Linked DNA regions of Homo sapiens: region 2 is linked to region 1. Evidence: fine-mapped expression QTL. A gene starts in region 1. The other region holds a variant in brackets. All regions are shown on one strand. Distances are from middle to middle. Region 1 holds the start of SRPRB (SRP receptor subunit beta). Region 2 overlaps TF (transferrin).

The links.
Region 2: its variant is fine-mapped to the expression of SRPRB in esophagus mucosa (GTEx, PIP above 0.99).

What each region holds. Positions count from the first base shown.
Region 1 is chr3:133,803,659-133,808,047 of GRCh38, forward strand. It overlaps SRPRB (SRP receptor subunit beta), which reads left to right and starts at 2,157. Exons shown (of 7, transcript NM_001379313.1): 1 at 2,157-2,344; 2 at 2,951-3,045; 3 at 4,088-4,165. The coding sequence starts at 2,191. LOC105374116 (a long non-coding RNA gene) reads right to left here and starts at 1,825. Exons shown (of 3, transcript XR_924513.3): 1 at 1,430-1,825. RefSeq lists enhancers at 1,809-1,918, 2,009-2,068, 2,209-2,418, 2,529-2,578, 2,609-2,718.
Region 2 is chr3:133,755,450-133,759,838 of GRCh38, forward strand. TF (transferrin) reads left to right here. Exons shown (of 17, transcript NM_001063.4): 5 at 1-46; 6 at 833-888; 7 at 1,382-1,560; 8 at 2,320-2,497; 9 at 3,726-3,880. Among named protein-coding and RNA genes, the nearest start is that of TF, 11 kb to the left of the region's middle. The variant C/G (reference allele first, on the strand shown) is at 2,128.

The DNA.
Region 1 (4,389 bases):
CCTTTTTTTTTTTTCCTTTTTTTGGAGGCAGGGTCTTGCTCTGTTGCCCAGGCTGGAGTGCAGTGGCATGTGATCACAGCTCACGGTAACCTGGAATTCCTGGGCTCAAGCGCTCCTGCCTCAGTCTCCCAAGTAGCTGAGACTGCAGGCATATGCCACCATGCCTGGCTAATTATTTTTTAATTAAAGAAAATGTTTTAGGCCGAGGTGGGTGGATCACGAGGTTAGGAGATCGAGACCATCCTGGCTAACATGGTGAAACCCCGTCTCTACTAAAAATACAAAAAATTAGCCGGGCATGGTGGCAGGCGCCTGTAGTCCCAGCTACTCGGGAGGCTGAGGCAGGAGAATGGCGTGAACCCGGGAGGCGGAGCTTGCAGTGAGCCGAGATCGCACCACTGCACTCCAGCCTGGGCAACAGAGCGAGACTCTGTCTCAAAAAAAAAAAAAAAAAAAAAGAAAAAAGAAAATGTTTTTTGCAGAGACAGAGTCTCACTATGTTGCCCAGGCTGGTCTTGAATTCTTGGCCTCAAGCAATCCTCCTGCCTTGGCCTCCCAAAGCGCTGGGATTAATAGCTGTGAGTCACCGGGTCCTCCCCCAGTTCCTCTCTTTTTCCTTGTCCCTGTGCATGGTGAGGTTTTGTGTGGCCCTGAGTGGTATCAAGCTAAATAACAAGCAGAGAGGGACGCTCTAAAAGAAAATAATATTTATTCTGGAATAGGCATTGCAATGGGACTACGCATGCCATAGTCAACTATGTGCATATTCAGGGGGGTGTAAAGGAAGACAAAGATTTTTAAAGAAAAAATGAGTCAGATTCCATAATTGTTTTAAGATAATTATCCTTGGCTACAAGGATCAAATGGCAAGGATGGCATCAGTACTAGGTTGGACAGGGAGTTGCTGGGTAGCCGTCCTAACAGATGTATTTTTTTGTGTGTAAGGTTGCGATGGCCTTTGTGCAAGTCTGTGGTTTTTGCAGTCTTTTGTGACAGTTTTTGTCATCAGGCATGGGTGCCTGAGAACCCTCCCTCCATGGCCTTTCACCAGCTCCATTTTTCTGATTAAAAAAAAAAATACAAGTGACTCCATTTTGATGCTGACAACTTTTTCAATGGCAATGTGGAACTGTAATAAACTTTTTTCAATCTTTCAGTGACACTGACATCTTCATGTCTCTACTCAGCCATACAATTAAATTAAATAATGTGTACATTTTAAAACAATGACAGCTGTTTAATGACAGAGACTGTGAACTGGGACCCTCTAGGCTGGCCACTTTTGGTGTTTTATTTGGGCCACAAGTTTTTGAATGCTTTCAATTACCTACAGAAAATTTCAAAAGTGGAAAATTTCCTATAAAAATCTGCCTTTATTGCTTCTCTTGAAAACTGGAAGAACCGGCCACCCAGGTCCCATAACACCTACCTGGCTGAATAGGGTCGGCCCTACTTTCAGCAGAAATACCTCCTGCAGTTTTCAACAGCCCCAGCTCTCCTGGGCGTTGATTTTCCTAGTTGCTTCCTTTAATGCAGACATTTGAGTTTGCAGCCCTAGATTGACAGTGTAGGGGCACTGAATTACTTAGGGTTCCCACATACATCGTTTCTTACACTCATTTTCTTCTGCACAGCACCTTTTTTTCCTTTAACCACTCGCAGATGCTAACTCATTCTTCAGGACTCAATTCCAATGTCCAGAAGCTTTTCTCTGAACTCATGATGGACTCCGCGTCCCATTATGTATTCCCACATCGCTCCGTACATCCATCTGTCACATCCCTTGTCACATTAAATTCAGATTAAATGTTTGTAGGATGCTTGAGTTCTTCACAAGTCTCACGTCACTTAGCGACGGTCGGGAACTCCTCAGTGGTAGTTTCGGGAGCCATTCATTCATTTTATTCATTTCATCATTCTTTCAACAGTCATAACGTAGGTGACGACGACTGACTCATCTCTTAAAAGATGTGTGTGTCCCTCGACAAATAACCTGTCTGCCCCTATCGTTCTGTAGGAGGACGGAGTCCCAGAGAACTACAACTCCCATCAAGCACTTGGGGGATCGCCGCGGCTGAGGGAGAGACTATGGCTTAGGAACCACCATTCGCGTGAGGCTCTGCTCCCCGCGCCTGCGCAGAGTGCAGGGCCACGTCGCTTTTGCTGTACCGGGGACCACGCGTCTCATCCATGGCTTCCGCGGACTCGCGCCGGGTGGCAGATGGCGGCGGTGCCGGGGGCACCTTCCAGCCCTACCTAGACACCTTGCGGCAGGAGCTGCAGCAGACGGACCCAACGCTGTTGTCAGTAGTGGTGGCGGTTCTTGCGGTGCTGCTGACGCTAGGTAAAAGGCGGCCGGTGGTCATGGCGGGTTTGGGGCGGGCAGAGGTCCGGGCTTTGGCTGCACCGCTGCAGGCCGGGGACGCGGGGCTGAGAGGGCGCCTTGAGGGCATCAGGAGGGTGAGACCCACCCAGTCTACACCCCACCCTCTCTCCTGAAGCAGCGGCAGCAGCTGGGCGTTAAGGGGGATGCCGGGCAACCCCCGGAGTTAACGTCCTGGTCCTTGGGGCGCAGATTGCTCTTCGTCATCTGCCCTGTTACGCTTGAGCGCGCTGTTCCTCGCCTTCCGCTGTTCTCACTGCAAAGACTCAGGGTCTTGACACCAACTTTCAGCCTCCCGTGTTTGCGTGCGGGCGCTGGGATACCAAGGTAGTGAGATAGCACCTGAGTCCCAGTCAGAGTAAGGACTGCAAAGAAAAGTTGACAGTTGACAGTGCCTGGCTCTCAGTGGATCCCTAACAACAGCAATAGTAACCATTATGATAAAAGTCAGTTCCAGGTGAATGAGGTGTTTCGTCACAGACTTCTGTGAATTTCCCCACCCCAGCCATGCACATATACTGATTCCCAAGGCGTAATTTTTGTTGTTTTTCTCTGTCTATTCCACAGTCTTCTGGAAGTTAATCCGGAGCAGAAGGAGCAGTCAGAGAGCTGTTCTTCTTGTTGGCCTTTGTGATTCCGGGAAAACGTTGCTCTTTGTCAGGGTAAATGATTTCATTGACACCCCTGTTAAGCTTAATAGAAAATTTTATAGATCCCAGTATTCCTGTCATCTCACGGTTTATTTTGTAAAAGAAGCTGATGCTGTTAAATTTGGAAGTTAATTCTTGACTTACTTGGGAGAACAAAAAGACTCGTAGAAACCCATAATTGAGAAATATTGGTCATTTCTCCTTTTTTTTTTCTGTTTGCCCTTGCCAGATGCTGATATTTAGTCTTTATCACATTCAAGGATTTTATTTAATTAGTTTCATTCCAGAATAGCAGAAGGCATAGAAGCTAGTGTCCTACAGTTTATAATTCCTTCGTTAACAAATTCTTAGGACAGTTTATCGAAGACACTTTTTCACAGGGTGATCCTTCTTTGACATAGTGGGCTAGTTAGGCTTCTTTTTACTAATATTTATTTTTAATACATTTAGTATTTTTAACAGTGTATTTTAATGTGGTGAATAGGAGAGGTTTTCTGCTTTTTAACTCTTCTTTTTGAGAGTATAAATTATTTCCCTTCCATTAAAGAAATACCTCCATTTTTTTTTTTTTTTTTTTTTTGAGGGAGTGTCTCACTCCAATGCCCAGGCTGGAGTGCAGTGGCGAGATCTCTGCTCATTGCAGCCTTGACCTCTGGGACTCAGATGATTCTCCCACCTCAGCCTCCGAGTAGCTGGGACTACAGGCGTGCAACACTACGCCCGGCTGATTTTTTATATTTTTTGTAGAGATGAGATTTTGCCATGTTGCCCAGGCTTCAAATCATTTTTGTTGGTTAAAAATCTTTACAGAAGCTTGGCAAATTTGGCCACTAACTGTCTTTTGAGAATAATGTTGTTTTTATTCCACTGAGGAGTAAAATATGCAATTAATTAGATTTTTTTCTACAGGTAAAAAAAATCAATATCGTCTTTTTCACCTGTCGGAAGCAGCATTCATTTACTTAACCTTACACCTGGGAGACTTAGAATAATATAACTCAATTTAGGTGTGCTATTAAAATGTTGAATATCACCCATCTTGTTTTTTTTACAGTTGTTAACAGGCCTTTATAGAGACACTCAGACGTCCATTACTGACAGCTGTGCTGTATACAGAGTCAACAATAACAGGGTAAGATGTTTGTGGAGTTTTGGAGTCTGACAGTCTTACTTTACTGTGGTGTGTCAGTTAAGGACATTTTTAGGATGAGTTCATCTGAGGATGTAAGTACCATTTGTAGCTTATTTTTATGGAGAAACATATTCTTTGTGACAAATTCTCTTGACAATCTGTACAGTAGATTTAATCATGCCCTCCTCTGCATTGTTGTACCTTAATGTACAGTAATGTTATAT
Region 2 (4,389 bases), 48 kb before region 1:
GCTGCTCCACCCTTAACCAATACTTCGGCTACTCGGGAGCCTTCAAGTGAGTGAGATGTCTGCTGCTCCATGGTGGCCAAAGTGCCAAATGTCCTCAGGGTGAGAGTTCTTTGCTGGTCCAAAGCCGAGCCCTGCCTGCCTACAGGGGCATCGAGGTGGCCTAATCCCCTCCCAGTGAGTCAGAAGCACAACCTGGGACTCCTAGGCCAAGCCAGCCCATGTTCCCTTTCATCTGACCCTGACAAGTAGGTCCTTTTCCTGGGGACCCTTCCTTTCTCCCCAGAGCCCTCAAGCCTGGTCAGTGTCTCCTCTCGGTGGATCGGGCAGAGCCTGAAAGGACAATCATGCCTCTAGTGTCTGGGCCCACTGTCCAGGGACTGGCCCTCTTCCCTCAATCTCAGCAGTGTTACCTGCTCAGCACACTGCCTGTCTCCTGCCCCCATCACCGTCTCTATCTGGGAAGCTGATTTCTTGCTTTCTCTTTTTACCTTGATTATATCCTAAAGTTTTACAACCAGCCAAAGGCACATTTTCACCCTCAGGAGACACTATACCATTATCTTCTATTCCAGAAGTTTAAAAGCTCTTTTCACATGAAAATATCTTCAGTTGCATTTTGCTTCTTTGGGTTATGAGGGCTTTTTATCTCGTGTGAGCTCATTCCCCCATCTCAGCACTACGCTGGAGGTCTGCACACCATGGTGTTGCTTCAGCTACGGGGCTGCACCAGGCTCTATCCTAGTGTGAGTGCTGGACAGTGTGATCAGACTCTCCAGGTGCAGGAGAAGGGCCTGCCCTGCAGGAGCCCTGCTGATGTGTTTCTTTGACCCAGGTGTCTGAAGGATGGTGCTGGGGATGTGGCCTTTGTCAAGCACTCGACTATATTTGGTAAGAATGGGACAAGAATCCACCAGGGCCACTCCAAGTAGTGGGTGTTCTTTTTCTGTGTTCCCTTTTTCATGCTCAGTAATTGGAAATGAGCATACTGTATTTCTCCTTTATCATTGCCTGGGTTTCCACCTGTGCAGAGTTAGGTACCTACGGGGTCCCCATCTGGATTCCTGGGCCTCTTTCCATCATTCAATCTCTCCACACGGTGCCTCTGCCTCTGGGGTAGTGTTGCCATAACCAAAGACTGGGGGTTGGTGCTGCTAAGATCAGGCTCATGGTGGAATGAGGAGCAATCACTGCTACATGGGCATCAGAAGCCTTTACCTGGCTGTGGGCTCTTGAGCGAGTCATTCTCCCGCATGTTCTCTGGCCTTCAGTGCTCACTCCAGACCTCTCAGCTCATACTTTCTATGATCAATTGAATTTCAAGGATGGGCACCACAGCCCATGGCTCTCCTGTGTTAAGCTCACCTGGGCTTTCCCTCCCCAGAGAACTTGGCAAACAAGGCTGACAGGGACCAGTATGAGCTGCTTTGCCTGGACAACACCCGGAAGCCGGTAGATGAATACAAGGACTGCCACTTGGCCCAGGTCCCTTCTCATACCGTCGTGGCCCGAAGTATGGGCGGCAAGGAGGACTTGATCTGGGAGCTTCTCAACCAGGCCCAGGTATCCCCACCTGCCATCCTCCCCTCCAGCTTAGTGCTCCCTGCTTGGATTTGGGGGTTTTCCTCCTGGCCATCTTGTCACTCTGGAAGTCTGTGTGTTCAGGATACAGTGGGAGCCATGCCACATGTCACTAAGTTCTCTAAAAGCTGGGACTCCCCACAGAGCAGCAGGGAGCCTGCTGTGGTGCTACCGTCTGCCGCCCTTGCCTTTCTGGCTGGTGACACCTGAAGAGGCTCTGTATTGCTCTGTTGCATTCCTTTCTACCTAAACTTCAAGGCCCAAAGCTAAACCCCTCCCCAAGGAGGCTTTCCATGACCCTCCCAGAAGGAAATGGTCTCTCTCCCCATGCCCCTCAGCCCGGCTGTGAGGGGGCTGCCTGCACAGCGGCTTTACTTCCCAAGAGCTGTGTGATTTGGGCTCAGCCAGCTTCCTCTTGCCGAGCCGTCCCATCTGTCCACTGAGAGTTTGACTGGTAACCACACAGGGCAGCCTCTGGATTAGCCACGTTTCTTGTTCTCACCGATGTCTCAACCCGTTCCGGGAGACAGGCACAGAAGCAGGTTCAGG[C/G]AAATCGCGGACCCACGAGGGCTACAGGCAGAGGAAGTGCTGGGTGAGCAGGAGCAGGTCCGACTGCCCTCTCTCCTGGCATCTTGAACTTTTTCATGTTGTTTCCTGCAGAGATTTCTTTTCTCTTCAGTCCCATTTCTCAGCCTCCTTTCTTCTGTGTTGCCATCCACTATTCTGTTTTTCTATGAACAGGAACATTTTGGCAAAGACAAATCAAAAGAATTCCAACTATTCAGCTCTCCTCATGGGAAGGACCTGCTGTTTAAGGACTCTGCCCACGGGTTTTTAAAAGTCCCCCCCAGGATGGATGCCAAGATGTACCTGGGCTATGAGTATGTCACTGCCATCCGGAATCTACGGGAAGGCACATGTGAGTACCTGGGAAGAACCAGGTGACCACAAGCACTTGGGAAACCTGGTGAGCACAGGGGCCAGAGATTGAGTCTTTTCAGGGACCTGCACGCCTCTCCTGATGCTCCTTTTTCTGACCTGTCTGTGAGCCCAGTGTTAGACTGATGCTGAATGGCGTTAGTCATTATGAGATGGCCTTGATGTCACCATGGGCTTTACAGGAAATCCACATTTAAAATGACGTGGGTTGGTTCCAGTATTTCCTTTGCATCAATCAGGACTGCCTTACCTACTCTGTGAAGGCAATTAGCTTATCACAGAGTAAGTGAAATAGAACAAAATTGCTATATATTGCACATCTCCAGCCAGTCAACATGTACCATAATGAAGAGGTGCTCTAAGAGAGGTTGATCCCAGTCCTGGATTTCACTGAGTCACTGTGGTTTTGCTTGACCATTCATTTATTCAGCAGACATTTATTGAACATCTAGCCATATGCTCTGCTAGGTGCTGGACATAGGATGGCATGACAAATATATATTTGATTCTGTTGTCCTGGAAATTTCAAACTGGGGAGAAGATAAATGTTTAATGAATAGTCATGCTATTGGATGATGAATTACAAAGTAAGAGATATGTTTAAAAGGGGAAAAATATGACAACAAAATACCATGGCCCTATGAGACTGCAAAACAAAGAAAAATAGGCCCTGGACTTGGCGTTAAGGCAAAGCTTCCTTGAGGAAGTGACTCTTGAGCTCAGTCTGAAAGATGAGCAGATGTACATTTATTCATCAGACATTTATTATGCTGACCATGTGCTAGCATTGCCCTAACCCTGAGGATGCCCTGGTGAACAAGACAGGCAGGGCCCTTTCTGTGTTGGAGCTTCTGTTCTCCTGCAGAAAACCTGACAATAAACAATGAACATATAAATAAGAACACCTCCAGTAGTTAAGTGCTATCTGAAAAACAAGAAGGAAAAAAACAGCCAGAGGTCATATAGTGCCCAGAGGCTGGAGAGGAAAGTTGGCTTCTCGGAAGACATAAAAAACTAAATTTAAATGAGAAGTCAACCAAGAGATTGTGCATTGACTTTGCTTTCTAAGGTGATTAATTCCTTGAATGGGGTCTGTTTGTTTATTGCTGGCAAATCCCAGCATTTGCATGAAGACAGTGAGTAGTGCTGACAAACACCAGGCAACAGCTAGGGCCGCTTCTGATCTTTGTTCTTTTTTTATGCCATAGGCCCAGAAGCCCCAACAGATGAATGCAAGCCTGTGAAGTGGTGTGCGCTGAGCCACCACGAGAGGCTCAAGTGTGATGAGTGGAGTGTTAACAGTGTAGGGAAAATAGAGTGTGTATCAGCAGAGACCACCGAAGACTGCATCGCCAAGATCATGGTATGTCACTCCAGCCTTCCTAGGGCAGCGTCCCTGTCATTGCTGCCTGCTGGCCCCCAAGACTGAGCTAGGGAGTGTTCCTGGGAATGATGCAAAAACCTGGCTCCCAGGAACCTTGCCCTGACTATGTGAGCACAGCCCCACCGGAGGTTCAGAATCTTTGAGCTTGTGGATCTGAAGGGTGCCCACAGGGCTCAGTTTCCTCCTTGTATGAGTGTATGGTGAAAGGGCAGGCTGAGCAGTGCCTGCTTAGGGAGGCTGGACCATGGTGTGGGTGTCCTGAGACCAGTGGTGTGCCACGATCACTGAGATAAGATCCTGAGTACATGGTAGGATCCAATCAGGTACAAATTTGCTTTGTTGATCAAAAGAGTATCCTAGCCTGGCATGGTGGCATGCACCTGTAGTCCCAGCTACTTCGAAAGCTGAGGCAGGAGGATTGCTTGAGCCCAGGAGTTCAGGGCTAGCAACTTAGCAGGACCTTGTCTCTAACAACATTTTTTTTTTAA